4 linked regions of the Homo sapiens genome follow. The protein of the gene in region 1 purifies or fractionates together with the protein of each later gene. This does not show direct contact. Each region holds a gene or a part of one and is shown in the gene's direction. Other genes may lie near its edges.

The links.
Region 2: the proteins of TMEM255B (region 1) and PHYHIP purify together in Homo sapiens (affinity purification with mass spectrometry; 3 studies listed by BioGRID and IntAct, with this or other methods). This does not show direct contact.
Region 3: the proteins of TMEM255B (region 1) and PLXDC2 purify together in Homo sapiens (affinity purification with mass spectrometry; 2 studies listed by BioGRID and IntAct, with this or other methods). This does not show direct contact.
Region 4: the proteins of TMEM255B (region 1) and WWP1 purify together in Homo sapiens (affinity purification with mass spectrometry; 3 studies listed by BioGRID and IntAct, with this or other methods). This does not show direct contact.

Annotation. Positions count from the first base shown.
Region 1 is NC_000013.11:113,761,776-113,769,588, forward strand, and holds part of TMEM255B (transmembrane protein 255B), read left to right. Parts: intron 1-4,339; coding exon 4,340-4,482; intron 4,483-7,322; coding exon 7,323-7,385; intron 7,386-7,813.
Region 2 is NC_000008.11:22,228,637-22,236,500, reverse strand, and holds the start of PHYHIP (phytanoyl-CoA hydroxylase-interacting protein), read left to right. Parts: upstream 1-4,401; 5' UTR 4,402-4,705; intron 4,706-7,591; exon of another isoform or gene 7,592-7,713; intron 7,714-7,864. UniProt on the Homo sapiens protein: Its interaction with PHYH suggests a role in the development of the central system.
Region 3 is NC_000010.11:19,812,196-19,819,928, forward strand, and holds the start of PLXDC2 (plexin domain-containing protein 2 isoform 1 precursor), read left to right. Parts: upstream 1-4,236; 5' UTR 4,237-4,884; coding exon 4,885-4,996; intron 4,997-7,733. UniProt on the Homo sapiens protein: May play a role in tumor angiogenesis.
Region 4 is NC_000008.11:86,407,912-86,415,724, forward strand, and holds part of WWP1 (NEDD4-like E3 ubiquitin-protein ligase WWP1), read left to right. Parts: intron 1-3,626; coding exon 3,627-3,963; intron 3,964-7,813. UniProt on the Homo sapiens protein: E3 ubiquitin-protein ligase which accepts ubiquitin from an E2 ubiquitin-conjugating enzyme in the form of a thioester and then directly transfers the ubiquitin to targeted substrates.

The DNA of each region.
Region 1 (7,813 bases):
TCCATCCTACAGGTCAGGAGACTGAAGTGCCTTCATTCATTCCGTACCAGGAGATGTGTCTATGTCCTCATCTGAGCCCCGGGAACCGGCGACAAACAAGAGACAGAGCTCTTGGCTCTCATAGGGTTCTCTTCTCCCAGGCTCAGGGAGATTAAATGGCCGCCCAAGACCACACAATGGGTCTGGACAGACCCAGAATGGTTTGGGTCCAGTCCCTGTAAGCTGCCTCTGCAATAGAAACCTATTGGTAGATATTTTAATTAATAGTTGGGGCACTTAGGAGCACTTTAATTTTCACAGTGCGTGTAATAACAGTATTTCCGGGACAGGAAAAAAAAAAAAATCAAGGAAATTATTCAGGTGATTTTAATTATCTTTCTCCTAAGTGAAAGCCCCTTTCTCTTGAAAATCTGACCTTATAATTATCTCTTATGCTAATTATAAAGATATCCCACCTTCTTTTCTTGAGTTTATTTTTTTTCTCATTTTTATGCTGTGTCATGTATTTATAGAATGTGTTTAAGGTTGGGAGTCTTCTTTTTGTTATCTCTATTATATCTGGAGTCAAAATATCACCATTGTGTAATTGAATGAGATGATTTGCAACCATTGCTCCCAGTGCCCCATGTAAGTTCTACTGTCTTTCTAGACTTGTATAATCTAGGAATCTGTGATAGGAATGCTGATAAAAGGGTGGCTCATACCTTCTGCTTTTTATTTTGTAGCAGATGGGGGGGAAGTTAGACTCAGGAAAGAGGGGTAAACATAGCAAAGTTAGGTTGAAAATGGTTTGTAGGAGGATTTACGTGGTTTCAGAGGAGATGTGTCTAACTCTTCGCATAGTAATTAACAAGTCAGCATGTTACCGATTGACTTGACAAGGTCAGTTAGCCCAGTGGGTCTTGCTGGGCCCCCACTCTTCATGCCAAGGAACCGAGCAGAGCTTCCAGCTTTAAGAACCAGAATCCAGTCACAGGGTTCCTGACAGACGGACGCCCACAGGAGGCTGGGACAGGAGCCCCACGGAAGGTTCTACCTGTGGGTCGAAGCAGACGCTGAGTCATCTGGTTAACTATTTTGAGCATAATATTATATGCATGCAGTGCATTTAATTAAGAAAAATCGCACAACAAAATCCTTTGAGAAGGACAGCGTTTGTCTGATAATTTTCTCAAATACTTAGTCCCATAAAATTTAGTTTTAGAAATTGTATTGCTCTTAAAATACATTTAAACAGTCAAAAGATTGGAATGGGAGCCTAAGGAAAAGCAGGAAAGGCTGAAGCGGGAATTGTGTGAGTTGAAGGCACCTAGCATTTGGCTGCATTGGCAGGTGTTACATGGAGGCTGGTGAGGGTGACCTGGAGCCTCTGGTCATGATCAAATGAGATAAGGAAGTTAGGCTGCTCTGAAAATCGACACACAGCCCAATCCATAGATGGTGTTATTATCATCAATATGATTATTTTGTGTAATTCCACAATAGCTGTTTCATTAACTTCCAAAATGTGGAATTGCATATATTTTTAAATTTTGTGTCCATTTTTAAAAAGTTTACCTACCTTTCTAAAACGAATCAACCAGAACGGAGTTTCACCCACGGGAGGTGCCTGCCTTCCTCTTGCCCACTTGCTCCCAGCGTGGGTTTGCCGTTTCTCACCTCGACTTCCCGACAGAGACCCGGGATCTGTCGCCATCGCTCCTGTCTCTCGGGCAAACGACCGTGAACATATAACCTTTCAGGTTTTTAACAAATTGCAAGATTTCAGTGAAAAAATTACTATAAAGCATTGTGGTCCTAATTTAAGAAAAAAATGTTTTAAAAAGTACATAGTGCATTGAAAAAAGACCATAAGATTTTATGCCTACTTGTTAATTTAGGTTACCATGAATTTTATTTTCCCTTTTGCATTTTTCAGTACTTTATGAGTGTTCTACAAAAAATCACTCTGCTCTTCTGAGCAGCGTAAAAATCACACTTTCCAACATATACCCACTGTCTCCCTTTTCCTTGTAAGAATGTCGTTATCATCTTCCCAACCTTTTCCAGTCCAACGAGGGTTGGCTTTTAGTTCAGAAATACCATGAGAGACACAGGGAAGAACTGTGCGAGTTAGAGGTGGGGAGGAGGAAGGAAGCCTGAGGCTGAGAAGCGAGGGACTGAGAGGCGGAGCTGGAGGAGGCCTTGGGCCGTGTGTTCCGGCTGGCAGGTGCAGCGCCCATCCCCTCATGCAGGGCAGGTGTCGGGTGCCTGGGCCTCGGTCACTTGAGGGGAGTGTCCTCCCCATCCAAAGACAAGAAAGGACGTGCTCCATGCACACAGGAAGGCAGGTGTGGCCTGGGGTGGGATGGGCCGGGGCGTGGGCGTGGGACACGGGGACACGGGTTGGGGCTGGGGGAGCATGACTTTAACAGACACTGGGTGATGGATGTGTAGGTGCCAGGTCCTGGGCCGCCAGTGTGGCCTTGGGGCTCCTGGTGCTGTGCCCGCCCCTGCACCCACCTGCTTGTCACCCCTCTAGGTTTATTCAGTGTGACCCCTGCAGAAGCTGCCTTGGGGACCCGGAGGGCGCAGGTGTGGCCCTGGCTGCAGGGACCCCGAACCCCAGGGCGTGTTCCTGAGGCTGGGTGTGGGGATTGCTCCCTGGCCCGCACCGGGCTGCGGCCTCTGGTGTCTCAGGAGGGTGGCTTTCAGAAGGAGGGCCTCACTCCACACCAGTGGTGCTGGGCTGAGGGGTGCACTGTGCCATCACCAGGCCCCTCAGGGAAGGCTCTGCCCTCTGCCCGCTGCCTGTGGGTGACACATCCGGAGCGCCCTGTCCCCAGCCCTGCTTAAGTTTTCTCCACTGAACTTGGCCTTTTCCAATGCCTGCAGCGTGTGCCTCTGTCTGTCTGGTGTCCCCTCTGCCTCTCACATGCGAGGATGCTCTGCAGGGGCAGGGGTGAAGGGGCAACTGTGGAGAGCACAGGGGTGAGTGTGGCTACTATACTCAGTGTGTCTATGCAGCAACATGTAAGAGAGGCCTTCAGGGAGTGCTGCGAGTGTCTAGCTGGAGACAGCAGGTACAAAGGCCCTGTGGATGCTGCAACAAGCCTGCCTCTAAGGAGGCAGGAGATGGGGCAACCAGGGAGAGGCTGAAACCACTGCCTGCGGCCTGGAGTATAACACTAAGGACAGTGCCACTGGCCGCCTCGGTGCAGTGGGTCCAAGACGGGGGCAGCCTGGCTGGCTGGTGGGAGCCGATGGTTTATTACATTGGCGAATGGAGTGATCTGGTCCCCTCCAAGGTGGAAGGTAAAAAGCGATTTAGGATGAGATTCTTGGGACAAGTGTATCTTTGCAAGGGTCAAGAGGCAGGCAGGGTGCTGTGCCGGGGGCTGTGCTGAGTCCAAGAGGGCCTTGAAGGAAGGCCGTGACCAAGGCCACGCCCTTGCTGGGTCAGCTGGATAAAAATGACTCTCTCAGATCAGCAGAGCAATTCTGCATCTGCACATTGATTTATAGTTTTGTGAAACTCATTTCTGAGGATGTAACAATCCCTTCCTTGGGTGCGATAACCTTGCCTTGCCATTGAGCTCTGCTGATGGGATTGCAGAAGTGTAAATCTTCAGATGCGGACCTTCTAGGGTGTGGACAATGTCTGCACGGCCGTCATCGCTGCCAGCGGCTCTCCAGTGTGCGGTCTGCTTTCCCTGCACACACGCACTTACACATGTGCACACACACAAATGTTGATTTTCAAACTCTTGGAGTAGGAAGACCTTACCATGGTTTTTTAAATCCCCTATTTTGTTTGGAGTCACACAGGGATCAAGATGATTCAGTTTTCAAAAAATAAAGCAAAACAGATGGCACAGCTGGATGGCTGCTGTGTGCGTTCCTCTCTCCCTGCCCCTCCCCTGGTGGCAGCCCCCTCCCCCACTGGGTGTGGCTGGGATAGGCGGATAGAGAGGGTGTGTCTGTGAGCGAATGGTAATGATAAAACAGTAAACAAAAGATGCTCCTGTCCTCCTGGGGACACCAGGGGGAGAAAGTCAGATAGAGGAAGAGGCAGCCAATAGGAAGGAGTCCTTTCTAGTTTGCTTTCTTGAGTTCTGTGACAGTTAGAATTAGGTTTGGCCGCAAATACCAGGCTATCCAGTATAGTGGCTTATGGTCCAGAGATTTTATTCTGTTATCTAATGGAGGTTGGGGGTGGTCCCCTGAGGTGGGCCTGGAGGCAGGCGGGGATAGTGCATCCCAGGACCCCTGGGTAACGGAGCACGGCCCAGAGCCTGCTGGCCTGACGCCCTCCTGAGCCTGAGCCCTCACTGACAGGTCCTCGCCTTCCTCCCCACAGAAGGGCTTTCGAGGAGGAAGAAGACGTCGCTCTGGTTTGTGGGGTCTCTGCTGCTGGTGTCCGTCCTCATAGTCACCGTCGGGCTGGCTGCCACCACCAGGACGGAGAATGTGACCGTTGGGGGCTACTACCCAGGGATCATTGTGAGTGCGCCGGGCGGGCGGCCTGGGCCGGGGAGGGCAGGGTGGTGTGTGGCTCTCTCAGGGTGGAGTCCACGCCAGCTCACAGGGCTGGGGCTGAAGGTGGGGAGGCTTCGATCAGTGCTTGTGGTCGGCAGGGTTATGGCCCCCACAGACATGCACTTCCCAATCCCCAGGACCTGGGACAGTGGCAGGTCCAAGGCAGAGGGGAATTGGGGTTGAGGTCCAAGTTGATCTCAAAATAGGGCCAGGTGCCCTCCATTGTCTGGGTTGGCCCGATGTGGTCACAGGGTGACCAGAGGGCAGGAGGGGGGCCAGAGCCCGGCAACAGGAAATGTCCAAGGTGGAGGAGGGGCCAGGAGCCCAGGATGTCCAAAAAGGCCGGACAGAGCCTCCCCAAGCATCCTGGAAGGATTTTACCCTGAGGGACCAGGTCGACCACCATAGCCCATGGAAGGGGAAAGTAACTTTAAACGATTCCTACCAAGAAGCCGTGGGTCAAAGATCGTATTAGTGACGTGATCGCGTGGGAACGGCCAGAAGGTGGTGGTGCTGACCTCATCCACCCGTCAGGCCAGATTTTGAACAGTAAGGCGGCGAGGTAAATTGATGGTAACCTAATTGGCAAGAATTGGTCACCCAGATTCAAAAGTATCAAGGTTTTTTGAACTATGAAATTACATCCTCTGTCGTTAGTAAAAGAATTCTCCTAAGTGCCTGCATTCTGCACAGTGAACCTCTGTTGGAATGGCTTGGATCAGCTGCGATGCCCTTCACATGCCCCAGAGCCTGGTTGCTACGTCATAAAGTGCTAAAGCAAGATTTTAAAATGCGGCTTCTTCAATCTCATTACTCTCACCTAAAGTACTACCAAGATTGGTAATAATATTGATGACAATCAGCAAAGATGAAAGATTTTTGGCCCTAAGTATTTAGAAATATTTTACAAATACTGTTTATTTCACCATTATATTTTCCTTTGTTTATATCTTAGGGTGTGCCTTAGACATCTACACTATCTACCTGTGTATAGTTTATGAATAAACATATACAAATAGTATCTATGCAGAAAAAGCTTTATCAGTAAAATTGCAAGAGGCCAATGGTGTGGGGACCTTGGCCTCATGTGAGGGGCTTTTCTGCTTCCTGGGCAGAAAGGGGAGCCCAGAGGGCAAGTGGCTGTGAGGAGGGACCTCCAAGTGATTTGCGAAACATCAAGATCAGCCTTGAGTGGTTGTTTTTTTTGGTTTGTCCTCAAGCTTATTTAAGAGCTGCCTCAGAATAACATAATGAAAAACATCAATGGCTAATGCCCAAGCTATGCTCTGTAAAGAATCTACCTTCTGGGCAATGAATTAATGCTGTGCTGACCAGATTGAAATGGCCTGTAGTACAGACAGTTCTGAAAGCAAACTAGGGAGACAACAAATAAAAGCAGCTTCAAGGAAACGTGGCTAAGAGTCACTTCTGTGGAGACTTTCTGCCAATGTAGAGACTTAAGAAGCTGATCTCAGAAGAAGCGGCCAGAACGTGAAAACATCTCCACATTTTCAAGAAAGGTGTGGTTTTTTTCAAATCCCCAAAAAATAAAACGTAGTGTAACAGATGTATTTTAATACATGTATATCGAAGTGAAATTTTGATATTTTTGACGTGTGGAGTTGAACTGCAGTATTTTGAAGCTCAGCACATGAAGAAATATTCCTGTTATCCCTGGAGAATTCTCAAACCGTTGGTGAAAGCCACATGTGTACGTGTCTATCACCACAGACACACAGACAATTACAGAAAAGGCAAAACTATTTACATAAAGAAGTCCGGTTTCCAGTGCATTAAACTTGACACCACGGCCCCAGCAACTCCAAGGCTGTGCCGGGCGGGCCACCCCTTCCAACAGACACTCACTGGGAAGTGCGACCGGCCCGGCGCACCTGCGTGGGAGCAAGAGCCGTCTTAGGCCTCGGCACGGTCGTTGGCAGGTCCATGTTGGCTGCTCTGAGCCAGATTTTCGGTGGGTGTTGCTGAAATGCATGTTCTTCACACTGATTTTAAAAATTCCTCTGCCAGGTGGGCGTCACCTGCCAGGACGGGCCCTGGGTGGAGGGTGCGGATGCCCGGCCGGTGGCCTCTGTTCTAAGACAGCACAGTCCCATGTCTATTTCCCGACATCCCAGTATCATTTTCTGCCCAGAGCTGGGGCTTCCTGTGGAGTAAGGGGGCTCTGCCGGACCCCTGGTGGCCTGTGCTGCAGCCCGGGGCCCCCTCTGTGCCTGGCCCAGGTGCCCCCTCTGTGCCTGGCTCAGGTGCCCTTTCCCCACACCTGGCACCTCCCTGCTAACGGTCTGCCCTGCTCACTCTCCCGAAGCAGCAACCAGAGTTAGGCCGTCTGAGCAGGGGTCACTGGTGGCCCTTGTGCCTGGCAACCCTTCTTTTGAAACACGGCTGTAGTTCCCTAATACCTTACCCAGGAGCCATGCTCAGGGGCATCTCAGGCCTGGAGAAGACGGGACAGATGGTGGTGCTTGGTGGCCCTGGGTTCCCGAAAAGATGTTGTCTCTGGGGGAGGAGTGGGAACTTCTCTTACCCCAGAGTCACAAGCCAAACAGATGCATCATTAAAAACCTCTGAGCAGAGAAGACAGGACAGGTGATGTTGCAGAGATGCCTGCCCAACGCCAGCAGACGCACCTGCTGCTCAGTGGTTGAGGTTCTTGAGGTAGGGATGTCTGGCCTTCGTCCCTGGATAAAATGCCTTTGAGGGCGGGATTATTTGCTTTAAATGTCAGTGTTAAGCTTCTAGGCACGTTAATGAGTGTTTCTCTCTCGTTCTTCCTTTGGTTTTAGCTCGGCTTTGGATCTTTCTTAGGAATTATTGGCATCAACTTGGTGGAGAATAGAAGGCAAATGGTAAGAAAGTACATGGGGTGGTGGGGAGCATGAGTCCCTCATCAGGGGATGGTACAGCTGCACTGGGGCTCTGAGAAGAGTCAGCCCTGCCTCCCCAGCACACTGGTGTCTACAGGACCAGCTCTGAGGTTCCCGGGCTGTGGCCTGCACAGTCCTGGATACAGGGTTCAGCGAGTACCATTCACACCTTAGTCTAAGCGAGCATGGCCCTGGGTTGCTGGTGTATCAACCTCACGTGGTGTGCAACCACCAATGCTGAGGCCTGGGAAGCTCAGAGAATGCATGAAGTTTGGGACGGGGGTGGCAAATTAAATTAAGTCCTAGTGTGTAAAGTTCAGGCAAAAACATGTGCATAAGCCTCTCTTCCTTTTGAACCAGTGGCTCTAGAGTCTTGTTTTTCGTCTGAGTTTGGTTAATGTTTATCTTGC
Region 2 (7,864 bases), on another chromosome or scaffold:
GGCCAGGCTGGTCTCGAACTCCTACCTCAGACGATTCGGCTGCCTCAACCTCCCTAAGTCCTGAGATTACAGGCGTGAGCTACCGCGCCTGGCCTTGTCCTGGTACCTTGCCAAGCAGTGCGCAGTGGTGTTCCGTATTTCCTACATCATGTTCTTCCACTTTGGGTATAACTTACTGACTATTCCAGTACTGAGGTTCTATATGAGTCCTTCTACTTACGATTCTCTTTCATCATTGTTCTTGATCTTTTTCTCTTGAAGTTCCTTTTATCCCTCCAACATTCTCTCAGTGTCTCTTCTGTAGCTTGTCTGAGTCCTTTAATATAATTCAGCATTTTCCCATGTCTTAAAGTGGTTAAATATTTAAGTTTTCTACAAAATCTAAAATATATATATCTTTGAGACAGGTTCTCGCTTTGTCACCCAGACTGGAGTGCAGTGAAGCGATCATGCCTCACTGCAGCCTCCAAATCCTAGGCTCAAGCAATCCTGCTGCCTCAGCCTCCAGAGTAGTTGGGACTATAGGCCCATGCCACCATGCCCAGCTAATTTTTGTACTCTTTGTGAAGACGGGGTTTCACCATGTTGCCCAGACTGGTCTCGAACTCCTGGGTTCAAGTGATCTGCCCACTTCAGACTCCTAAAGAGCTGAGATTACAGGTATGAGCCACTGCACCCAGCCATAAAATACTTTTTCTTTAGTTTAGTAAATGTTTTTAGAATTAGGTTAATGCTCTTCATTAAAATAGATGACCAGTGAAGGTTATAGGTTGTCTAAACATAATATCGAAAAGAAAAGGAAATAAGCACTGAGAAATCCATGTAGTTCTTATAAATACTCATGGCCCACTCTTGTCATTGTAAACACATGTAAAGGACAAAAGTGGTTTCCACGGACTACCTGATGTATGTGCATTCATTGGCTCACCGGATCCCCACACTGAGTTCAGCCATAGGGAAATACACATAAACATTTTAAATCTATAAAGTGCATAAGCAATATTAAGACTGTAAATATGTTTTGCTTATAGTCTCATTCTCTATTACATCAGACTCTATATTTGCTATGCATCTTTCTACCACGAGGAATCTGGCCTTGGTACTCAGACAGACCTGAATTTGAATACTAACTAGTTTTACTACTTATGGCCTGAGTCCTCTTTCCCACCCTCCACCTTTTTAAAATGGAGTTGATCAGCTGGGCATGGTGGCTCACACCTGTAATCCTAGCACTTTGAGAGGCCGAGGCAGGAGGATCACTGGAGACCAGGAGTTGGAGATCAGCCTGACCAACATAGTGAGAGCCTGTCTCTACAAAAAAAAAAAAAAAAAAAAAAAAAAAATTTGTTGTTGAGATGGAGTCTCACCCTGTCACCCAGGCTGGAGTACAGTGGCGTGATCTTGGCTCACTGCAACCTCCACCTCCCAGGTTCTGGGAGACAGAACAACAGAGCGAGACTCTGTCTCAAAAAAAAAAAAAAAAAAAAAAAAAGGTTATATGATGAACAGAAAAGATATTGGTAAGTGAAAAAAGCAGGTTACAAAACAGCATTCTTTCATTCTATTTTTGTTAATAAATTCTATACAAGTATTGGCTGGGTGTGGTGGCTCGCACCTGTGTAATCCCAACTACTTTGGAAGGCCAAGGCGGGTGGATTGCTTGCATTTAGGAGTTTGGGACCAGCCTGGGCAACACAGTGAGACCCCATCTCTACAAAAAATAAAAAAAATAGCCAGGTGTGGTGGTGTGCGCCTATACTCTCAGCTATTCAGGGGACTGAGGTGGGAGGATTACTTAAGCCAGGGAGGCAGAGGTTGCAGTGAGCCAAGTTTGCGCCACTGCACTCCAGCCGGGGTGACAGAGCAAGACCCTGTCTCGAAAAAAATTAATTAAAAAAATTCTTTATATGTATTTAATGTGTATTTCTGCATGGTGGGAAAATGAGAGATTTAAATTCCCTCTTAAATTTTAAAATGAAATGTGCTCGTCTCTCTACAATGATCATGTGCTACTTGTGTCATAAAAAGTTATGAAAAATAAAAATGCAGCAGAAGTGCATCTTGGCGGTTGTTTGGTTTCATAGGGAGTGAGTTATACTTGGCACACTATGGTTTGCTCTTACCACGTGTTTCCTCTCGTGATCTGTAGAGAAGTCCTCTGAGGCAAGAAGAGGCAGAAGCTCCTAAAGGGCTGTGCCTTCACCTGTCGCCGGCACGCAGCTCCACAAAGGGGCGCTCAGATGGCTATTGCTCATGCTTGGGCCACAGGACCTCGTGCAGTCTCCTCATGACATCCCGAGAAGGTGGGAGGCAGGGATGGTGCTGGGGCTAGTTTTCCTTTGGCAGAAGGGGAAACCAAGTCACAGAGAACCTGCCTTTTTCCTTGCACTGCCCCTCTGTGTGGTCCTAGGGACAGGATTTTATTATTTATTTATTTATTTATTTTTCGAGGCACAATCTCACTCTGTCACTCAGGCTGGAGTGCAGTGGTGCAATCTTGGCTCACTGCAACCTCCACCTCCCGGGTTCAAGCGATTCTTGTGCCTCAGCCTCCCAAGTAGCTGGGATTACAGGCGCCCACCACCACACCCAGCTAATTTTTATATTTTTAGTAGAGATGGGGTTTCGCCATGTTAGCTAGGCTGGTCTCGAACTCCTGATCTCAGGTGATCTGCCTGCCTCAGTCTCCCAAAGTGTTCGGATTCTTGTGAGCCACTGCGCCCGGCCTGGGACAGAATTGTAGTCCAGATGTCATGTGCTGGCCATCACCAGGAGGTTACGTTTTGCATCTCTTCTGAGCTCACCAGCTCGGCGTGGGTATGTCGGAGCAGGACGTAGTCATGCTTGGCCAAGGGGGTGCTTAGTCCTGCCTCAGTGCCACGCACCACCCCACATTCGGCAGTTCAGGACCTGGCCAGGCTCACTGAGGTTCTCACAGCCGTTTCAGGCAGGGTTGGCTTCTGCTTGTCTTTGCATTCTGTGAACTCTCACTTTCTGCTGCTGTTACCTCCTCTGACTTTTGCACTGAGGCCTGCCGCCTCAACTCCCTCTTGGTGAGTGTTTCTTAGGCTCAGCTCACACCTTCTCCTGCTCACCAAGACCTCACCCTGGGCCTGCCTGGTGTCAGCTGCCCCCGTGCCAATCCTCCCCACCCCAGCCGCACTCCTGCTTCCACAGCCTCCTCTGGCCTGCACCCTGCACGTGCCCTGGAGCCGCCCATTGTTCTTTCTCTGAATGAGTATCTGTGCCCTACGATTTAGTTGTGTGCTCCTCATTCTCTAATTGCATCCTCTAAATGGCCATCTTCTCTCCCGTAGAGGACTGTGGGCTCCTTGCAGGAAGATGCTGTCGATATGATGGGAACAAGAACAGTTCTGACATGTGACTGGCACTTCTGATGTGCCAGGCCCAGGGCTGGGCGATTTACCTAATTATTTCATTCCATGATGACAATAAACCTGTGTGATCCCACTTGACAGATGAAGAGAGGTTGAGTGGCTTGTCCAAGGTCCCCCAGCTGGGTAGCAGTAGAGCAGGGATTCTCAGCACATCCATCTGACTGTGAGCCTGTGCTTTTCACCACTGCGCAACCCTCTGTCCCTGCTTGCTGCTGGACTCACATTTCCTTGGATGTTCTTCCCGATGGCCTCCACGGAGTCTGCTTCTTGATGGCAGAACAGCCTCCTGCTGCCGTGAGAGCAGAATTACATTCTCTCCCCAAGATGCCCAGGGCCGGCTTCCTTTGTGCTCAGAGAGTGGGGTGGGCTGAGGACACTCAGAGCTTGGTGTGTTCTCCCACCCCCATTTTCTTACCCCTGTGCACCCTGCACTGTGCCACAGCCTCTCTCCCAGCCCCTTTTCCTGTGGACCCCCAAGCTGCCAGAGGGTTCTTGCCAGACCCACAGGGATCCCTGAGCTGCAGGTCTGCCATCTCTCTCTAGAGTTGGTAAGAAAATGGAACCACAGTTCACCAAAAGGCCCCAAGGAGAGGCTCCGGACTGAAGACAGCCACCCCAGCTTCACACCCCCCATCTGGACCTTTCCCCTCTACAGCCTCCCTCCCCTTCCCCCAATCAGAGTCTTTGCTTTGGGGCCCAAGCCCTTGGCTAAGCTCCACCCCTCTCCCAGCATCCTAAAGTTTGGGGGCTGCATTCAAGTCAGAGATTTCCAAGTAGGGGGTGTGTTGGAGGGACTTCTGAGGGCAGCTTGTCCTGGAAGAATGGGGGAAAGGCGGCGTGTGTTGCTGTCCCTGAGGACATCTGTGTAGCTCCCTGGGAGACCCTCTGCCCTTTCCCCCTCCCACCAGCCCGGCGAGCAGGGACCAAGCCTGCTTATTATCACCTGACGCTGCGCAGCCGCTGATCCCATTGGTGGAGGCAGATTCGGTCTGGCTCTCTCGTTCTTTCTCCCTTCTCTGCCTCTCTCTCCTCCACGCTGCTTTGATTTCGCTCTTGCCTCTCTTCTTGCGCTGCTCAGCTGGGAACATCGTCTCACCAGGGGCAGCAGCGACGCGCTGCACAGCCAGACAGGAGCTGGCTGCGGGGCATGGAAGCAGCCTCCTTGGCAGCCGGGAGAGGAGCAAGCGCACGCCACTGCCCGTGACCCAGGCGTCCGGCTGCTGTCCCCTGCCGGGGAGCTCATCCACGCAGAGGTCTCTCCCTGTCCTCCCTGCGAGCTTTTCCTCTGCAGAGCCCAGTGGAGCCAGGTGAGTACCCTTCCTCCCTGGAACCTGCTGCTGTTGATCCTGAGTAGCCGGGATCTGGGGGCTCTAGGGTCCTGCCACCACCCAGGGTGCCCACCTGGACTGCCAGGCCTGACGACCTTGTCCCCTCTCCCCCCCCCCGGCCAGGCCTTTGGCAAAGTGGTTAATGGCTGAATCCAGTCTCTGGGGCACCACAGTTAGTCACCCCGTGACCGTTCTGCTGCAGTCAGCGATGCCAACAGGGACAGCAGGGTGGGGGAAGCATTCCCTGTGGCAGGGTGGCTGTTTGAATGGGCATGGGGAAGGGGCACCGGTGTGCGCGGCGTGTGTGTGTGCGCGCTCGCGAGTTGGCTGGAGGCTTGCTGGCGCAGATAGGTCCGTCTGTCCGCAGTCATGCTCATGTGTGGGTTTTGAATGGTGTGAGGCATGTCTAGAAACATATCTTTCTGGCACACGTGAGGTACATGTGTGTGGGGGACTTATTTGAGTAGCCTGTGGGTGTGCGTGGGTGGGGACACTATGAGGCAGTATATTTAGGGGTAACCATGTCCCTTTTCATGTGTGTGGGAGTGTATGCAGACAGGGGCTTTCTATATGGGGAGGTGAGACCCAGAGCAGGATGGAGTGGGTAAAGAGAAGAAGGGGCAGAAACCATTGTCTGTGGGCAGAGCCACGTAGGTGCACAAACCTGTTGGCATGAAGGCTCAGGGCTGGCAGAGTGTGGCCAGAGGCAAACACATTTTCAAAGTCTGTCTTTGAGCCTGGAGATGATTCGAGAGAGAATACCAGACTTCGGGCGGGGGCTGCTGTGTGTATGAACACACATGTGTGTGCCGGCAGGCGTGTGGGTTGCGTGCCTTCTTGTGGAGGTGGCACACATGCATGTTGGTGCCTGTGGCATCCTCTTTTCCCCACATATGGCTTGTGAGGCGGTGTGCGTGGACGTGTGTGTGCGTGAGCCTGTGGACATGAACATGTCTGGGTGTGCATGGAGGTGACAGATTGAAGAGGGAAAACTGTGGGGCATTCTTAGAATGTGGAAGGTGGCAGCAGGCACCTGAATGTGGAGATGGGTGTGTGGGAGTGAGGACATCTGCGGAGGTGTGGGACGCGGGTGGGTGGGCACTCTTGGCGCATGTGTGTATGCGCGTGCGTGCCTGCCTGTGTGTGGGTGTGTACATGCCTGTCTTGGGGTGGATCCACACAGGAGTGTGGGTGTTTCTCGGGTGTTGCCTCAACCTGTCCCTCACACCCTGCCCTTCCCCAGTCTTCTGGGTGTAGAGAACTTGGGTTCACACCCACCCCTCTGTCCACCCCAGCTCACTCACTGCCACCCTCCCAAGCTAGCGGGGGGATGTCATCTCAGCTTTCCCAGAACCGTAGGGAGGGAGGGACAAGCAGACACCCAGGTCCTGGAGACCCCTACCGCCAAACACAGCTGCCCCTATTTCTAGGAGGACTCCAAGGAGAGGCAGGAATAGGTGCCTACTCATGGGACGAGTGTGGGCTGCCTCCGAGCGTGTGGGTGGGTGCCGCTCAGGGCCTCTTGGGTAGGAGTGTGTCTGTGTTCGTGTGTGTGTGTGCGTGTGTGTGTGTGAGGGGCACATGTGTGTCTCCCTGGGAGCTTCTCACCAGGTTCCCAAGAGATGGTAACTCCCCACTGCTCCACACCTGTCCCCATGAATTACAAACTGGTTTATTATGGTAGGGTTGTTTCCAGACACTCAATCCCATCTGCCTGATTTTGGGGTGGGCCTGGTAGCACCGCCATGCTTATTTACCATAGGATTCCCCATGCACAAAGCCACCGGCATTTGGCTGTGGGGTGGGAGGCTAAGATGAAACAGGACTTGAGTGACACCTGGAGCAGGTAAGGGCCATCACCTTTAGCCTTCACCCTGTACTTGCCATCCAGGCAACTCACAGGTTAATACAGAGGTGCCAGGCTCTGGAGCAAGCTTAATTGACAGGAAGGTGTGGGCTGGATCCTCTGGAAGCTATAAATAAAAGTACCTGCTTTTGCAGGCACAAGATGCCCTCACCACTAGCTCCTGGGCAAGGGGAGGAGAAAAAGAGGGGAGAAAGAAGAGAAGGAGGTGACATTTAGAAAAATGAGGGGTGCCAGGAACTGGGCTGGAGGAAGGGATTGGAAAGCAGGAGACCAAATGCCCCTGGAGAATGCCCCACCCACGTCTGCTGTCCCCTCCCAGACGCTGTCACTCCCCTTCCCTTTGCTCTTCCCCATCCCGGAGCTAGGCCAGCCAGGCCAGAGTCATGGCCAGAGTCAGCTCTTCCCAGCTAAAGCACACATGAGAGTGACCGTGATGAGGTCCTCTCATACCTGGACGAGCAGCAGACATAAGGGGAGAACCAAAGGAGTAAGACAGGGAGGGGAGAGAAAATGCAGTTGCTTGAAAGGAAACGATGGAAGGAGGAAAAATGCCAGGTGGAAACACCATGGGCACCCATGCATGCACACACGCCACACATGTGCCCCTCCACCCCCACACATGAGGGGACACTATCTTAGCTTAGTGATCAAGAGCTTGGGTGCCGGAGTTCAAATCATTTGCTCTCTGCGTGGCCTTGGGCATGTTAGTACCTCCCCAACCTCAGTCGCCTCATCTGTAAAATGGAGATAATGATAGTGTGTGCCTACTTCCAAGGTTGCATGAGACGTCTGTGAAATTATGAGCACATGGCCGGCCCCTAATAGATGTTAATGTTAAAAGTCATGATTGAAAGGAGTCAAGAGAAGATTGGCCGAAAGAGAAAGAGGGATCATCAAAAAAAGTTATGGGTGGAAAAAGAGCTTGAAGCCGGCTGTGCCGCGTACCCCTCCCACCACGAATGTGTCCACATGCACCAACGTGGCACTTGTCCTTCCAGCCATGTACCGCGGCAACGCTTGCTGACCCCAGTGAGGAGAGAGGCCTGAATCCGAGGGCCCTGGCACCTGTGAGCTCTTGGCTGTCACCTGCCCCAAGCCTCGCACCTCCGCTCCACAGCAGGTGCTTCCTGCGTTTCCTCCGCCTCTCACCCGTCCTCTCCACCCCCACCCCTTTCTCTTTTCACGCCTGCTGGCTGAGGGCCCCCTCCCTCCTCGGCTCCATCTGCTGCAAATCTGTCCCCGCCCGGCTTTGCAGCATTCCCACTGCCTCT
Region 3 (7,733 bases), on another chromosome or scaffold:
AAAGGAGGCTATAAAGATGTATGCCATTTTAATGCAGGATATTGTTTCATTATGAATGTGCCTATATTGTTAATTTCATCTAGATAGTACATGTAGTATTGATATGAGGCTAAAAGGCATAAAGTATTCTTGTATGTTAAATGCTCCAGTTAAAAAGAGTTATGTTAGCTGTTAAGTGAGTTTTAAAAAGATGTTTATTCAATTCAAACACATAATTGATAAAATTTTCACCTTAAAACTATAAAGAACAAAAAGCTGGAATATCCATCAACAGTACAATAGAATTACAGTTTATTCTGAGAGCAGATCAGCCAAGACGAACAAATGAGTCTTGTAATTGCATACCAGAGGTCAAAAAATTAGCCTTACCAAATGAGGAGGGAGAGGAAATGCTGAGACCTAGAGGAAAGGTCATAATATTTGGACTGAATAAAAGCATTTCACTAATAGCAATTTCCCTTTATCTGACAGCAATTGTAGAAAGTTTTAACAAATCCTGTTAAAATGGACAAAAACTATTTCCTGAATAGTTAAGAAAAGATTATAATAAATGCCAAGTATTCTACAGCATGTATAGAATCTCATTTCCAAGTGAGCATGCTGTTTTCTTCAGCATCCTGTTAGCCAAGTTCCAATTTTGGACAGGTCCTAGGAAACACAACATTGTTAAAGACAGAGATGATACGAGGTGATTAATTGTAAGTACATTTCTATAGATAGTATTGCACTTGGAGTGTGTAAAAATCTCTCTGAAGATTGGTAGAGATAAGGGTTGTAAACAGGTTTGAAATCCACACAGTGATAGCTCACATGCTAATCTTTGCCCAAAGTTCTATGTTGTTGAGAATGATTCTGATATATTATTTTAAAGGAGAGAGTGTCGTATGAATTCCAGATCTTTGTCATGGACAAAGAATCTAAGTGCTATTCATTTGTGGTTCCTGATTCATTTGTTCCTTGAGAGATTAGCTAAAATTAAGAGTAGGTGAAAGAACCACCAATTCCTTTCCTATGTCTATAGTGAATACAAACAGCCGTTACTACGTCTCTCCCTCATGTCAGATGGAAGATGTAACATCTTCCACAAATACTTACTTTGTTACTACAAAATGGAAAGAGACACTTCTACTGTGGTGAAATGTGTATGGCAAACCCAAATAATTTAGGCCACAAAATACCCTAGTTTAGCCAGAATTATGAGTAATCTACTTTTTCCATTTCACTCTGAACATACTGTCCTACATACATTTTATTTATTCGTTCCTTGCTACAGTGTAAAGGCAGAATATACTTTAAAAAAATAATCATTCATCAACATTTAAGGCAAATGATCAGAGCTTGAGTTTATTGTTATACAATGTTGCTCTTTCTTCTTTATTTCTGAACAGCAAATCTCATCAAGCATGATTGAGTTTTGCTTACTTGTATCTTCTCCCTTACTTCCGCATTTACTATGTGTATAGCTCTTCAGAATAAAATTAAGATAGGAGTAAACCAATACAATTCAGCAGCATCAGTGACATAACCAAACATATAAAAGTCCTTCCTGACTGACCCTGAATGACCATTTACCCCCTTTCAAATTTTGACATCAAATTTCTACTTACAAAAAGTATATAGTTTCAATCAGGTGGTCAAAGCATTGATGACCGCAAGTAACAAGAAAAATGAACCCTGCGAATACGCACATAAAATAATAAAGGAAAAAAGAAAGAAAATGATAGCAAGGAGAGGTGGAGATTTGCTTGTTCTCAGAGGAGGAAACACCTATTTTTCTACTGTGAAAGAAGGAGAAATAACTCGGTCTGAAAAAAGAGGTGCTTTCTTGAAATGGTTTCCGCTGGATTCCCCATTATTTTAGATATGATGGGAGCTGGAGTTGTGCAGAATATTTTGGGACGCTTTCCGCATGGATTTATGATCCTCAAAAAGAATCGGCATCAATTAAACTATAGTTGACCCTTGAACAGTATGGGGGTCAGGGGGACGGACCCCCACACAGTAGAAAATTAATGTATAATTTCGACTCCTCATAAACTTAACTGCTAATACCCTACTGTTGATTAGAAGCATTACTGATAATATAAAAACAGTTGATTAACACATATTTGGTATGTTCTACATATTACATACTGTATTCTTAAAATAAAGTAAGCTAGAGAAAAGAAAATGTTAAGAAAATCATAAGGAAGATAAATATACTTACTGTTTATTAAGTGGAAGTGGATCATCAGAAAGGCTTTCATCCTCATCGTCTTCACATTGAGTGGGCTGAAGCGGAGGAAGAGGAGGGGTTAGTCTTGCTCTGTTAGGGGTGGCAGAGGAGGAAGAAAATCCATGCAAAAGCGGATCCTCGCAGTTCAAACCCCTGTTGTTCAAGGGTCAACCGCACAATCAGGTTTTGATGAGAAGACTCAGTTTTCAAACTTGATTTTAAGCAGGTATATATCCGGGTACTCAAATTCGGATGTAATATTACATAGAACTTAAACACTCCTAGTTAAGCAGAAATAGAAAAACCCAGTTACCTAAGTAGAAATCAACCTATGGGAGGAAAGCTCAGGAAAGAGCCAGGGTCCTGGCATAATAAAGAGTATAGGCATGATATATGTTTGTGTTTATACGTGTATATCTGTTGTTTGGAAATAAAGAGCAAATTGAGTATTGGATTAAGGGAAACCTTTCTTGTTTCCCATGAGAGAGCCGTCCTTTGAGCATCACATTTGCAAAGGTAGATTGATTATCCGGATCCACTTCCAGTGGGTTTTGTGGCAAGCCGAGACATCTATTGACAGCATCCATAGACTCTTCAGAGCTTGGAGTGGAAAGGACCTTGAACTTAGAACACATGCACATTTATTATGTGATTGAAGTCGTCTTCTCTCACTTTTGCTTCAGTAAACACTTAAACAAAGCCATGTACTTTGCGGTAGGCAATGTTCTATATTTATTAAATATACAGTTAACTCATCCAATCCATTGCAACCACCTTATAAGGGCGTTACTCTAATTCTCTCCATTTGATGGATGGATAACTGAGGCTAGGAGATAAACTGCTCATTGCGGGGGAGGTGAAATTCCAGCCCAGGCTGTCCGGGCTCTAGATCCTGTACTTTTAACCAATAGCGCTTTGCTTCTTTTCCTTGTATTTATCCCTTTCAAAAATGATTAACTGTATGCAAAATAAGATATCAACTAACGAGAGGGCCGGCAAGGGTTAACGCGGAAACAGATCCCCGAGCTGAAAAAACAAAAACAAACTGGGGAGCCAGAGCCCCTGAAAGCTCCGGTAGGAAATTCAATGGGCCTCCTGTTCCTTTAAACTCTCGCTTTCGCCCCCGCTGACACTTTGCAAAGCCGCGGCGGCAGCGGCGGGGACCACGCTGCGGTGCACCACCTTCCGCCACCCTCCCGCGCTGGGCTGGGGTCGAGGGGGCTTCGCAGAGTCGGTAACCGAACCGGCTCTGGTTTGCTTTCTCCACTCCCTAGCCACTACCAGAACCAGCCTCCGCGAAGGGGCGAGCTGTGGTTAACCCTTTCGTGCCCAGGGAGACCCCGCCAGGGTCGGGGCGGGGCGCGATCGCCCCCCGCAGTCGGGCGCGAAGGCGGCCCGGGAGCCAGGTGGGTGTGGGGCGCAGTTGGCGGAGCTGCCCAGGGCGTGCGAGCAGGCTGCGAGGATGGCGCCCCGGCGGCGCGGAGGTACCGCCCCGCGCTCCCCCGATAGCTCCCCGGCCTGTCCCCTCTCCCCGCGCTCTGGGGCAGCCGGCTGCCTGGGGCGCACGGGGCTGGAGTGGCCCTCTCCCTCCCCTTCGCTAGGCTCCCCCGGCTTAATCTGTTGGCCGCGACTCCTCAGCCAGCCCCGAGGAAAGTGCAGCCATTGGACAGGTCTGTGCGGGCTGCCGGTTTCAGGGAGGAAGGTGGGAGAAGCCTGGAGGAGCGAAGGGGAGGGCGGAGGGAGGAGGGAGGAGGGTGCGGCGGCAGATCTGGCAAATTGCGAGCTGCCTTCCCTCCTCAAAGTGTGGAGAAGGAGCGCGGGGGAGCGTGGCGACGGCAGCGCCTCCTCCGCCACCAAACTCCTGGGGCTCCGCGGGGGCTTGGGGCCACCTCCTCCTGAGCCCGGAGGAACCCTCTCCCGATAGGTTCCAGCGTGACTCCCTCCCACTCCACCCTTTTCCTTTCTTCTTCCTCTTTTTTTTTTTTTTTTTTAAACACATTTTTTTCCTGGCTTCGGACCTCAGACTGCTGCAGCCCTAACCTTCCCAGGGCTCAGCTCTTTGGAGCTGCCCATTCCTCCGGCTGCGAGAAAGGACGCGCGCCCTGCGTCGGGCGAAGAAAAGAAGCAAAACTTGTCGGGAGGGTTTCGTCATCAACCTCCTTCCCGCAAACCTAAACCTCCTGCCGGGGCCATCCCTAGACAGAGGAAAGTTCCTGCAGAGCCGACCAGCCCTAGTGGATCTGGGGCAGGCAGCGGCGCTGGCTGTGGAATTAGATCTGTTTTGAACCCAGTGGAGCGCATCGCTGGGGCTCGGAAGTCACCGTCCGCGGGCACCGGGTTGGCGCTGCCCGAGTGGAACCGACAGTTTGCGAGCCTCGGCTGCAAGTGGCCTCTCCTCCCCGCGGTTGTTGTTCAGTGTCGGGTGAGGGCTGCGAGTGTGGCAAGTTGCAAAGAGAGCCTCAGAGGTCCGAAGAGCGCTGCGCTCCTACTCGCGTTCGCTTCTTCCTCTTCTCGGTTCCCTACTGTGAAATCGCAGCGACATTTACAAAGGCCTCCGGGTCCTACCGAGACCGATCCGCAGCGTTTGGCCCGGTCGTGCCTATTGCATCGGGAGCCCCCGAGCACCGGCGAAGGACTGGCGGGTGGGGTAGGGAGGTGGCGGCGGCGGCATGGCGAGGTTCCCGAAGGCCGACCTGGCCGCTGCAGGAGTTATGTTACTTTGCCACTTCTTCACGGACCAGTTTCAGTTCGCCGATGGGAAACCCGGAGACCAAATCCTTGGTAAGTAAGATGCACTTTAGCTTGCTGATTTTGTGCGCAGCTGAAGACCTCTCTGGCACTCTCGTGCTCCCTACCCTCTCCCCCCAACATCACCTATCTGCCCTTGGGAAACTTATTGCAGTTGCTTTTCGGCTAAACTTAGGCTTCCCAAATGGGGAAAGAGGGTTATCAAGAGAAGGACGCCGGGGACTAGGGGTTTTCTTGAGGCTTTCGGGCTTACTTCACCTGGGCGGCAGGGGGTGGTACTGTCTCCCCAAAGTAGCCCAGGGAGGGCTTCAGTGTGAGAGCAAAGCTTCTTCCGTGGATACATCTCCTAGGACCTGGCATCTCCAGGCTGTGTGCTCTCCGGCTCCTCCTCCTTCCTCGCTGCTGGTTAAACTAAGCGTGTGTGGTATGGGGTGGGTGGGGGACGTTGTGAAAGCCAGGGATTGCAGGTCTCCCCTCTGCACGAGAAAATTCCCTGTGGCAGCACCTTCCTTCCCCTGGCGATCCCCACTAGCTCCGTCTAGTGACCTGGGCCAAGCGGGCGCTGGAAGGGGGGCGGGGTAAATGCGGCCGGCGCAGAGGTGGGGAGCAGGTGGGAAAGGTGGAGGCGGGCTCGCCTCTGGAGACCTACCCCTGCTCCCATTGTCCTCCGCCTGCCAGCTTCACAGACAGGCCTGAACGCGCAGAGAGTTCCTTGGAGTGCCCTGATTTTGTCCCCGAGAGGGCCCCCAACCTCCGCATCCTCTTAGTGGCTGTCCTGGCAGGTGCGCGTCCTGCGGGGAGTTGCGCCCCGGGGGCTATCGCCGAGCGGGAGCTGCCTCCTGGAACCCTGCCCACCGCGAACTGGGTGCCTACTCCCCATTTCTGCCTTTCAGTGAAGAAAGTGAAGACACAGGCAGAAAGAGATCTTGGCAGAAATTGGTGAACTAGGGTGGACTTCGAGAGGAGGTGAAACGAGAGAAAAAGAAAAAAGAAAAAACTTGGAGGGAAAAGAAAAGAAAACGAAAACTTTCTCCCTAGGATAATCAATTTGTCAATTTGTTCTTTTCTGGTGTGTGTGTGTGTGTGTGTGTGTGTGTGTGTGTGTGTGTGTGTGTAATTTAAATGATTGCCCGGAAAGTATGCATGCGTCCTCAACAGTCAACTAGAGAGTCACAGATGGAAGGTTGGGGGACACCTGGGGATTCCAGGCAAGGTGAATCTTGAAGATCTTGAAGGAAACCCTTGAGTGAAATTTACCAAGCCGCGACTTAGAAGACAGTCACAACACTTCGCCTGTCCCTGGTGTAAACTGTTCTAGATAAAGCACAGATACTGACTCTGCGCTCTTATTTATGGTTGAAGGGGTGTGTGTGTTGGGGTGTATGTGCAGGGAGGCAATAGGATGACAACACTTTTAAAGCTGAGAACAAAATGCAGATTTCTTGGGTGTTGACTTGTCTTTGTCACATTTAATTGTTCTGCATTAATGGACATAGGTTGTTCTTGACTGTGTATGATTTATGACAGTAGACTATGCCTTTTGTTTATTTCTCTGATACGTTTCATTGGTCCGAAAAAATAACACTTTTAGCCTTCCAGGAAAGGACACAGTTATTTAAAAATTGCAACAGTAATTTTCATGTACTTATTCACGGTATGAATAGATGCTTAATAAAAACAATTAACTCCACCACAAACGAGGTTAAAAGGATGTGTGTGCCAATGTGCATCCCAAGTTGTTTATTTAAAAACTTCTTTGGCACTAGGAATAAATAATGCATTTGCAGTAAAGGAAAAAAAAATAAATGCCAGCAAATGTTTATCTTTTTATAAACCTGTTCCAGTAACGTTACTGAAAAAAGAATATATGTATACACACACACACACACACACACACACACACACAATACACACACATTTGCTATGCCAAGAAGTTCAGAAATTGAGGATGAAATTCATCCCAAAGTAAGATTGGCCATATAATTAAAAGCCCTTGCTGTGGGAAATATAAAATACTTAAAATGTTCAACATCAGTGTACTGGTATTTTAAGCTAGTTGAATATTTCTGATGGGAAATATACTCTAGAAACCCATATATTGATAGGATTGATTTTTAAAAGAATGGTTTTAAATTCCTTGCCAAATTTTCGAAGACTTTTATAAACAGAAGTAGCTTCTTTCCTGGACATCATTTACATGTAGTTTTATGAAAAAAATATTGTAATTAAATGGTTAGCTTACTGAATATATAAAAAAAGCAAGGTGAAACAGAAAAAAGTATACAACTTTATTTGTAAAATAGTCTATATAAAAATTCAGTATGGGGGGAAAAGTCCAGCAGTCTTGACGTTTGTCATGCAACAATCAGGATCTTTATTACAGACATGTTGGCACAGGAACAACATCTGATTTCATAACAGGGACATTTTATTATGCGTTACTTTAGTAAATGCTGCAGTTGATTTCATTGCCACCAGAGGGCAGATAAACTGCTAATTTCCTCTATTATTCCCTTTTCTGTTTTAGAGGGAAGTAGTTTATGTTTATCATATAATTTACACTTATTTTAGTTGTTCTTCTCTGGTTGAATATTTTTCTGTTATTTCCTGCTTTTGTTGGAGTTAAACAATTTACTTTGAAATATTACTCATTTGTAGAGTTTGTTATGAGAGTGTTGCTGTTGAGACATAATCACTAAAGTTTCTGTTTACATATAAACCTAGAGCACAGTGATATAATAGAGGGGTTAATTCAAGTGAACATTTATTG
Region 4 (7,813 bases), on another chromosome or scaffold:
AGTTTACATTACCTTATATTAACTAATGTTCCTTCTTTGTATTGTACTGGTTCTGTGGGTTTGAGAAATGCATATCGTCATGTACACACCATTACAGTATCATACAGAATAGTTTTACTACTCTAAAATTTGTTTCATTTGTTTATCCCTCAAACCCTTTGCAACAGCTGTTTTTAAATACTGGCTCTATAGTTTTGTCCTTTCCAGGATGCTACATAGTTGGAGTCCTACAGTGTGGGTAGCCTTTTCAGATTGGCTTCTTTCACTTAGCAAGGTGCATTTAAGGTTTCTCCATGTTTTTTGTGGCTTGACTTCTCATTTCTTTTTATCACTAAATACTCACTTATTATAAAGGCTCCTTGGTTACTTCAGTTTTTTACAATTGTGAAAAACATTGCTATATACATTTGTGTGCAGGCTCTTACGTGAATATAAGTCTTCAATTCAGTTGGATTGAGGAGTGAGACTGGTGGGTTGTATTTTTAAAGTATGTTTACTTTTGTAACAAACGGCCAAACTGTCTTCCAAAGTGGCTGTACTCCTGCATTCCCACTGCAGTGAATGAGAATTCCTAGTGCTTTGCATCTCACCAACATTTGCATTTCAAGGAGAGTTGTTTATTGTTTATTATTATTTTAACAATACTGAATCTTCCCATTGAGAGATATTTTATGTCTGTATTCATTCTTTTTAGTAATGTTTTTTAAAGTGTTTTCTTCACGCTGGTTGTGCAGTGGCTTACGCCTGTAATCCCAGCATTTTGGGAGGCCCAGGCTGGGGAATCACTTGAGGTCAGGAGTTCGAGTCCAGCCTGGGCAACATAATGAAATCCTAAAAATGCAAAAAAATTTAGCCGGGTGTGGTGACGCATGCCTATAATCCCTGCTACTTGGGAGGCTGGGGCAGGAGAATTGCTTGAACCTGGGGTGCTGAGGTTTCAGTGAGCTGAGATCGCGCTACTGCACTCCAACCTGGGTGACAGAGCAAGACTCTGTCTCAAAAAAAAAAAAATTTTTTTTCTTCGGATAGGTCTTGAAGTAATCTTGTTGTTGATCTTGTGTCTGTTCATTTTGCTGAAATGTTTTAGCTCCAATTAATTGGTTCTAATGGGGTTTTTAAAAAAATTTTCTTGTGTATTCTAAATAAATAATCTATTTGTCATTTTCACTACAAATGAGTTTTACCATATTCTTTCCAATGTTGTTATGACTTTTCTTAATGGATTGTCAAATATAATCAATACTGAATTGGCTTGGTAATTGTGATCTTCCTTGTTTTGTTGCTGATTTTAATTTATTCTTTTTCTTTTTCTTTCTTTTTTTTTTTTTTTTTTTTTTCTTCAGACGGAGTCTTGCTCTTTTGCCCAGGTTGGAGTACAGTGGCGTGATCCTGGCTCACTGCAACCTCTACCTCCCGGATTCAAGCAATACTTCTGCCTCAGCCTCCTGAGTAGCTGGGATTACAGGCACACAACCACCACACCCAGCTAATTTTCCTATTTTTTGGTAGAGACAGGGTTTCACCGTGTTGGTCAGGGTGGTCTCAAACTCCTGACCTCGTGATCCACCCGCCTCGGCCTCCCAAAGTGCTGGGATTACAGGCGTGAGCCACTGTGCCCAGCCCTGATTTTACTTTATTCTTGATCTTAATAGAAGTTCTTACAATAGGCTGGGCACAGTGGCTCATGCCTGTAATCCCAGAACTTTGGGAGGCCAAGTTGGGTGGATCATTTGAGGTCAGGAGTTCAAGACTGGCCTGGCCAACAAGGTGAAAGCCCATCTCTACCAAAAAATAGGAAAACTAACCAGGCGTGGTGGCGGGTGCCTGTAATCCCGGCTACTGGGGGGCTGAGGAAGGAGAACCGTTTGAACCCGGGAGGTGGAGGTTGCAGTGAGCTGTGATTGTGCCACTGCACTCCAGTCTGGGCCACAGAGCGAGACACCTTCTCAAAAAAAAAAGTTCTTAAAATGTTTTACAATTATTGTATATTAATGACTGTAGGTTTGTGATAGATAATCTAGATTACTTCTTAATTTTTCATGATTCTTCTTATCAGGCATTTTACCAAGATTTTCTTGAATGCTTTTGGTTTGTTTTGAAAATAATCATATGACGTTTATCCTTTAATCTGCTAACAGTAGATTTTCTAATGTAGTTTCCTAATATCAAATCATCCTTGAATTTATACATGATGTTAGTCTATAGTCTTCTTGTTCTGTTGTTGTTCAGTTTCAGCTTTGAAAGTTTACATTACCTTCCCAGAATAAGTTAGGACACTCCTTTTCACTTTTTCTCCCCTAATGTGTTATAACACCTTAAATAACATAAGAATGATCTATCCAATAAAGGCTTCATAGAATTTTCTCAAAAACCTTTCTGAGCCTGGAGCCTTTAGGAGGGATGATATTAGAACTTTCATCACCTTTTCCATTGCTGCTCTGATTTGTCTTTTTTTCTTTCCCTTGAGTTAGTTTAGCTAATTTCAAACTCATTGATATGAAATTGTACGTGGTATTTCTAATGTTATTTATATTAAACATGTTTTCTTTATAACACTTGGAAAGGTATATTTCATGGTTTCTCCAGCTTTCCTGAGTAAAAAAATCATATGCATTTGTTAAAAATGCAGATCCCCAGGTTCTTCCCTAGAGATTTCCCCTAGAGATTCAGTAAGTCTAGGATGAGGACTTAGATACTATATTTTCAGTAAGTTCTGGAGTCTTATCAGGTGCATTAGGAAATTCTGATCTTTTTTTTGGGTCTTTTGACCAAAATTCATTTTCTTCTACTTACTTTTTTTTTTTTTTTCTGTATCTGGAATGAATTCTAAGCTCTTTTGTTACCATTCTTTCTTACATCTTTAGGTACTTCTTTGGCCATGTCCAGTAGCATTTAATCTGAGTGTTTTCTTTTTGTCATTAATTCTCCTAAAATTTGTGATTATGTCTCCCTCTGCCATTTCCATTAGAACTTTGATATATGGTCTTCCAGTAGGTTTTGTTCTGTAATCTATTCACCCTTACAGTTTTAATTTGACTCATTTTTATAGTGACACGTAGTCGAACTAGATCAATCACACTTAAAATGAAAATTAGGAAAACTGTGTCACTGGATTGCAGTACTGGGTTATTTCTTGAAAAAGTGTAGAATGGGTTCTTGCAACCCCTATAGTACTATCTTAAGAACTGATGCCATCATACAGTTCCTACTATTGGCAAAACAGTTCGTTTGATGTTAGCTACCACTTACACAAGGGAAGGGCGATTGAAAGGGATCATTTTTCAGAGTTTAGATGGCCCATACAGACTTCCTCTCAGAATTGATGATTTGGAGGGAAAACACTGGTTATCTTAATGCTGGTTCCTCTCTCCTTAAGGTTGTTATTATTATACATACTTAAATTTTTATCATTTACATATTCATCCCTGAAATTTTGAGCAACAAAAATAAAATCTCCATTTTATTTTATGTTACATATTTTGAAAATATTACTTTGTCTGCTGTTTGGAGAATGGATTGTAGTTGCTTAGTCTGGATTAGGCTCTGAATAAGTGTAGTCAATTGATTAGGTAATTGATTGCTTTATCATTACTTGATAGATGATTTTATTAATTTTCCCTTCTCAGTTAATGGAGAATCATCCTCATTTGCACCAACTGATAATGCGTCTGTCACGGGTACTCCAGTAGTGTCTGAAGAAAATGCCTTGTCTCCAAATTGCACTAGTACTACTGTTGAAGATCCTCCAGTTCAAGAAATACTGACTTCCTCAGAAAACAATGAATGTATTCCTTCTACCAGTGCAGAATTGGAATCTGAAGCTAGAAGTATATTAGAGCCTGACACCTCTAATTCTAGAAGTAGTTCTGCTTTTGAAGCAGCCAAATCAAGACAGCCAGATGGGTGTATGGATCCTGTACGGCAGCAGTCTGGGAATGCCAACACAGAAACCTTGCCATCAGGGTATGTTAAGCTTTTTAATGTCTGACTTGCATTTAAGTAGCAACTCTGTTAACATACGATTATTGAATGTGTGCATAAAATGTTTTCATTGTTCAGAACTTTGAAATCTAAGTTGGGATCTGAATCATACTATTTATTTACTTGCTACAAAACAAGTACTTTTTGAAACTAAGAACAATTGCTCATCTGGTTGACATATATGTAGTACGAAGGGAAAAGAAAAAACCTGATGTTAATTAGCAAGACCCTCTTAATTTGATTCTTGGTTTATTTCTACTTTTCGTAAGAGTGACCATGATACTCCATATAATATCCTCAGTTCTCTGGCATCCTTGGTGATCTGTTTTCCAGACCTCATACTGGAGAGCAAATAGCTCTTCTTTTCCTCAGCTAATATTGAGTGCTGGGGAGTCACAAACCTTGCTGATTGGCTCTATTAAAAATGCAGTTTTTCATTGCTGGTTAGTAATTCTTAATCTCTTTTAAGTTTCTCATTATAATTACTCAACTTCCCATGATTTTCTTTAAAGAGTATTCTATATGTGTATTCCATTCGGTAATTTCTTTGACCTTTGGCACTGATAATACTAATATTAATTAATGATTAATTGTCTCTGCCTTCAAGAAGCTTATTTAGTGATTCACAGTTGTAAACGTGTACAGTATATACAGTACAGTCAGAAAGTATATATGGACACGTGCTTTCCAACACAGTTTACAGTGATCAGAATGTCAACTGTTGTAGCTATTGAAACTGCACTTCTAGATGTCTCTACACTATTGTCTTCATTTTGTTACCTCAGTCACTATGTTAGTGTACGTTGGTTTTTTTTTTGGAATTGTTTTTTTTTTTCTCAGTGCCCTTTACTGGCTCGTCTGATGTTGTCCACTGCTTAATTACGGTTTCAGCCTTTGGTCTTCCTTTGTGTGCTTACCCCAGTAGATCTAGCACTCTCCATTATTATTATTTTGGAGCAGAGTTTCATTCTTGTTGGCCAGGCTAGAGTGCAATGGCACGATCTTGGCTCACTGCAACTTCCGCCTCCCAGGTTCAAGTGAGTCTGCTGCCTTAGCCTCCCAAGTGGCTGGGATTAGAGGCACCCGCCACTATGCCCAGCTAATTTTTGTATTTTTAGTAGAGACGGGGTTTTTCCATGTTGGTCAGGCTGGTCTCGAACTCCTGACCTCATGATCCACCCGCCTTGCTTCCCAAAGTGCTGGGATTACAGGTGTGAGCCACCATGCCTGGCCAGCTCTCCATCATTTTAACTATTAAATCTATATGTTCAGGCCAGACTTTTCTTTGAGCTTATTTTCAACTACTTTTCCCTCTTCTGTTTCCTGGAAATGTTTCAGACCCTATATTAGCTTTCCTTTCCCTCTCAAAAATCTCTTGTCCTGTGTCCCATGTTTGGTAAATTAGTCAATTATCCTAGTCTCTCATGTGCCAGTCACTGTGGCAAAGACATATAAGAAGCTGTTCTTACTGTCAAGAACCTCATCGTCTAAGTGGTGGGGGAGGGGAAGAGAAGTAGACAATCAGCCAGCATACAGTACAATTAAAGCTATGCCAGAGGTAAGTTTAGGATGCCATGACAAGGAATACATGCAGAGAAGGAATGGGAGGAGTTACCTGCGCCGTTGACGTCAAAGAATACTTTCGAAAGCTATGACACGTCAGTGGATTCTGAAAGAAGAGGAGGAGTTAGCAAATAGTGGAGGCACGAGTGGTGAAAATTTCATTTTCAGTAGAGCCGACTGCACATTCAGATTCCTAGCACCCATGAAAATGAGTATGCTGAACCCAGGAATTATTATTTTGTTATAGTTTGAGTTCAGCATTTGAGGCAGCAAGATATATAATGCTGAAGAGAAAACAGCCCTGTGAAGAATTTTGTGTGATTTCGAAGGGTTTGGAAGTTTTTTCTGAAAACCACGAATAAGCATTAAAGAATGTAAAGCAGGGGAGTGGCATAATCCTCTTTGCTTTTATTAAGATCATTTTTGCAGTGGTATAGACAGCTGAGGAGTTAAGGAGTTGGGATAGCAGCCAGGCTGTTTTATAAATGAGGGAAGCCGGCATTCCAGTTCAAAACAGTAAGTACATAAACCTAATTCTGTTGAGACCAGATAAATGCTTCAGCAGACTTGTTGTCACCACTTATGATCTTTGTATTAGAATTTTGCAGTAATCTATATTAGTGTTTTTCAAATTGTAGAGTGCAACCCGTTAATAGGTTATGACCAGCATTTGAACACATAATGAAATAAAGAAATATAGGCGAGAATAGGAAATATTGGAAGATGTTAAATGTAGTAAGAATAAGCATTGTTTCCTGAAAGTTTGTTTTTCTGTGTGTGTGTGTGTGTGTGTATGTGTGTGTATGTAAGTAAAATCAGTAGATAAATAGCAATCTGGTATACACAGAGATATTTATATAAAACACACTTCTTACTGTGTAAACTGTGGTCAAAAAAAGTTTAAAAGCCACTAATCCAGGGGAGAAATTAAGAGAGCCTGAAGTGAGGTAAATGCTAATATTTTAGGTTGACATAAGATGGGTCTTGATAAGTTGTGGGGAGATAGAATAGAAAAAGAGTGGAACCAAGGTGGATTCTTCTGGCATACACAGCACCAGGCTGTGTAACCCTTTGAGTCAGCAGTTTTCAACTCCACATCATCTTCCCTCTTTGCTTAAAAATCTTACCTTAGTTCCTGTGTTTTCTTTTGTTTGGTAACTTACTGAGTCATTTAGCTAACAACAGGATAGGACTATGGGTGCCTCAATCCTGTTGATTGTAATGTACAGCCAAGTTGAGAACTGCTACTTCAAGTTCTTTTGTTAACCCTTTACTCTCCACATTTTTTAATTCACTTTATATAGAGATATGTAGATGAAATAAAAAAATTCTGTGTATCAAAATCTAAAGTATGCATCAGTGAAAAATTGGACAGTGTATTAATATTGAGTACTTTTCAGAGAGATTAAAAATACATTCTGAATCCCCCCCCCATCCCCCCACCCCCGCCCCTAAATAGCGATTAGGCAACTGGGTCATGGCATATTTGACTGAAATAATGATAGAATGTTGGACTTAGGGTAGGAGAGTGATGAGAAAGTGTTCTGTATTTTGTAGGGCATCCAGTTGATATATGTACCTCATGCCGTATACCAAGGAGGCAGTTATATGTACAGTTCCAGAACTGAAGAAGAATATTCTAGCCTGGAGATAACATTTGAGTGTTATGCCAAGCACGATTTTGCCTAAAGAACTTTGCATGTGCTCTTTTATGTATTCTCAAATATACTCAGGTTTTGTTAAAATGTTACCTCATTCCAGAGGTGTTTTTTGAGTCTCCTGTCCAAATCAAGCCAGTTTCCCCACATTTCCGTATCCTGCTTTATTTTCCCCAACATTTTATGTTGAAAATTTACAAATGTACAGAAAATTATAATTTTGCAGTGAAAACCCATACACTTCCCACTAGATTTTACAATTGACCCTTTATTGTGCTTGCCTTATCTCATCTCTTCATCTCTTCATCCATCTGATTTTTAGTGCATTTCAATGAGTTGCAGACATCAATATGTTTTGCCCCTCAACACTTCAGCTTGCAAATCATTAACTGGAATTCAATATGTTTTAAAATTTTTTTAGATAAAGATGACAAAGAAAGAAAAACACGAGTCTTGAATGTACCATTATGATGAATTTTGGCAAATGCGTATGTCTGTGTAACTCAAATCTTTATCGAGATACAGAACATTAATATCACCCTAGAAAGTTGTGATTCTGAGGCAATCAATATTCTAATTTTTTCTACTATAGATTAATTTTCCCTGCTGTA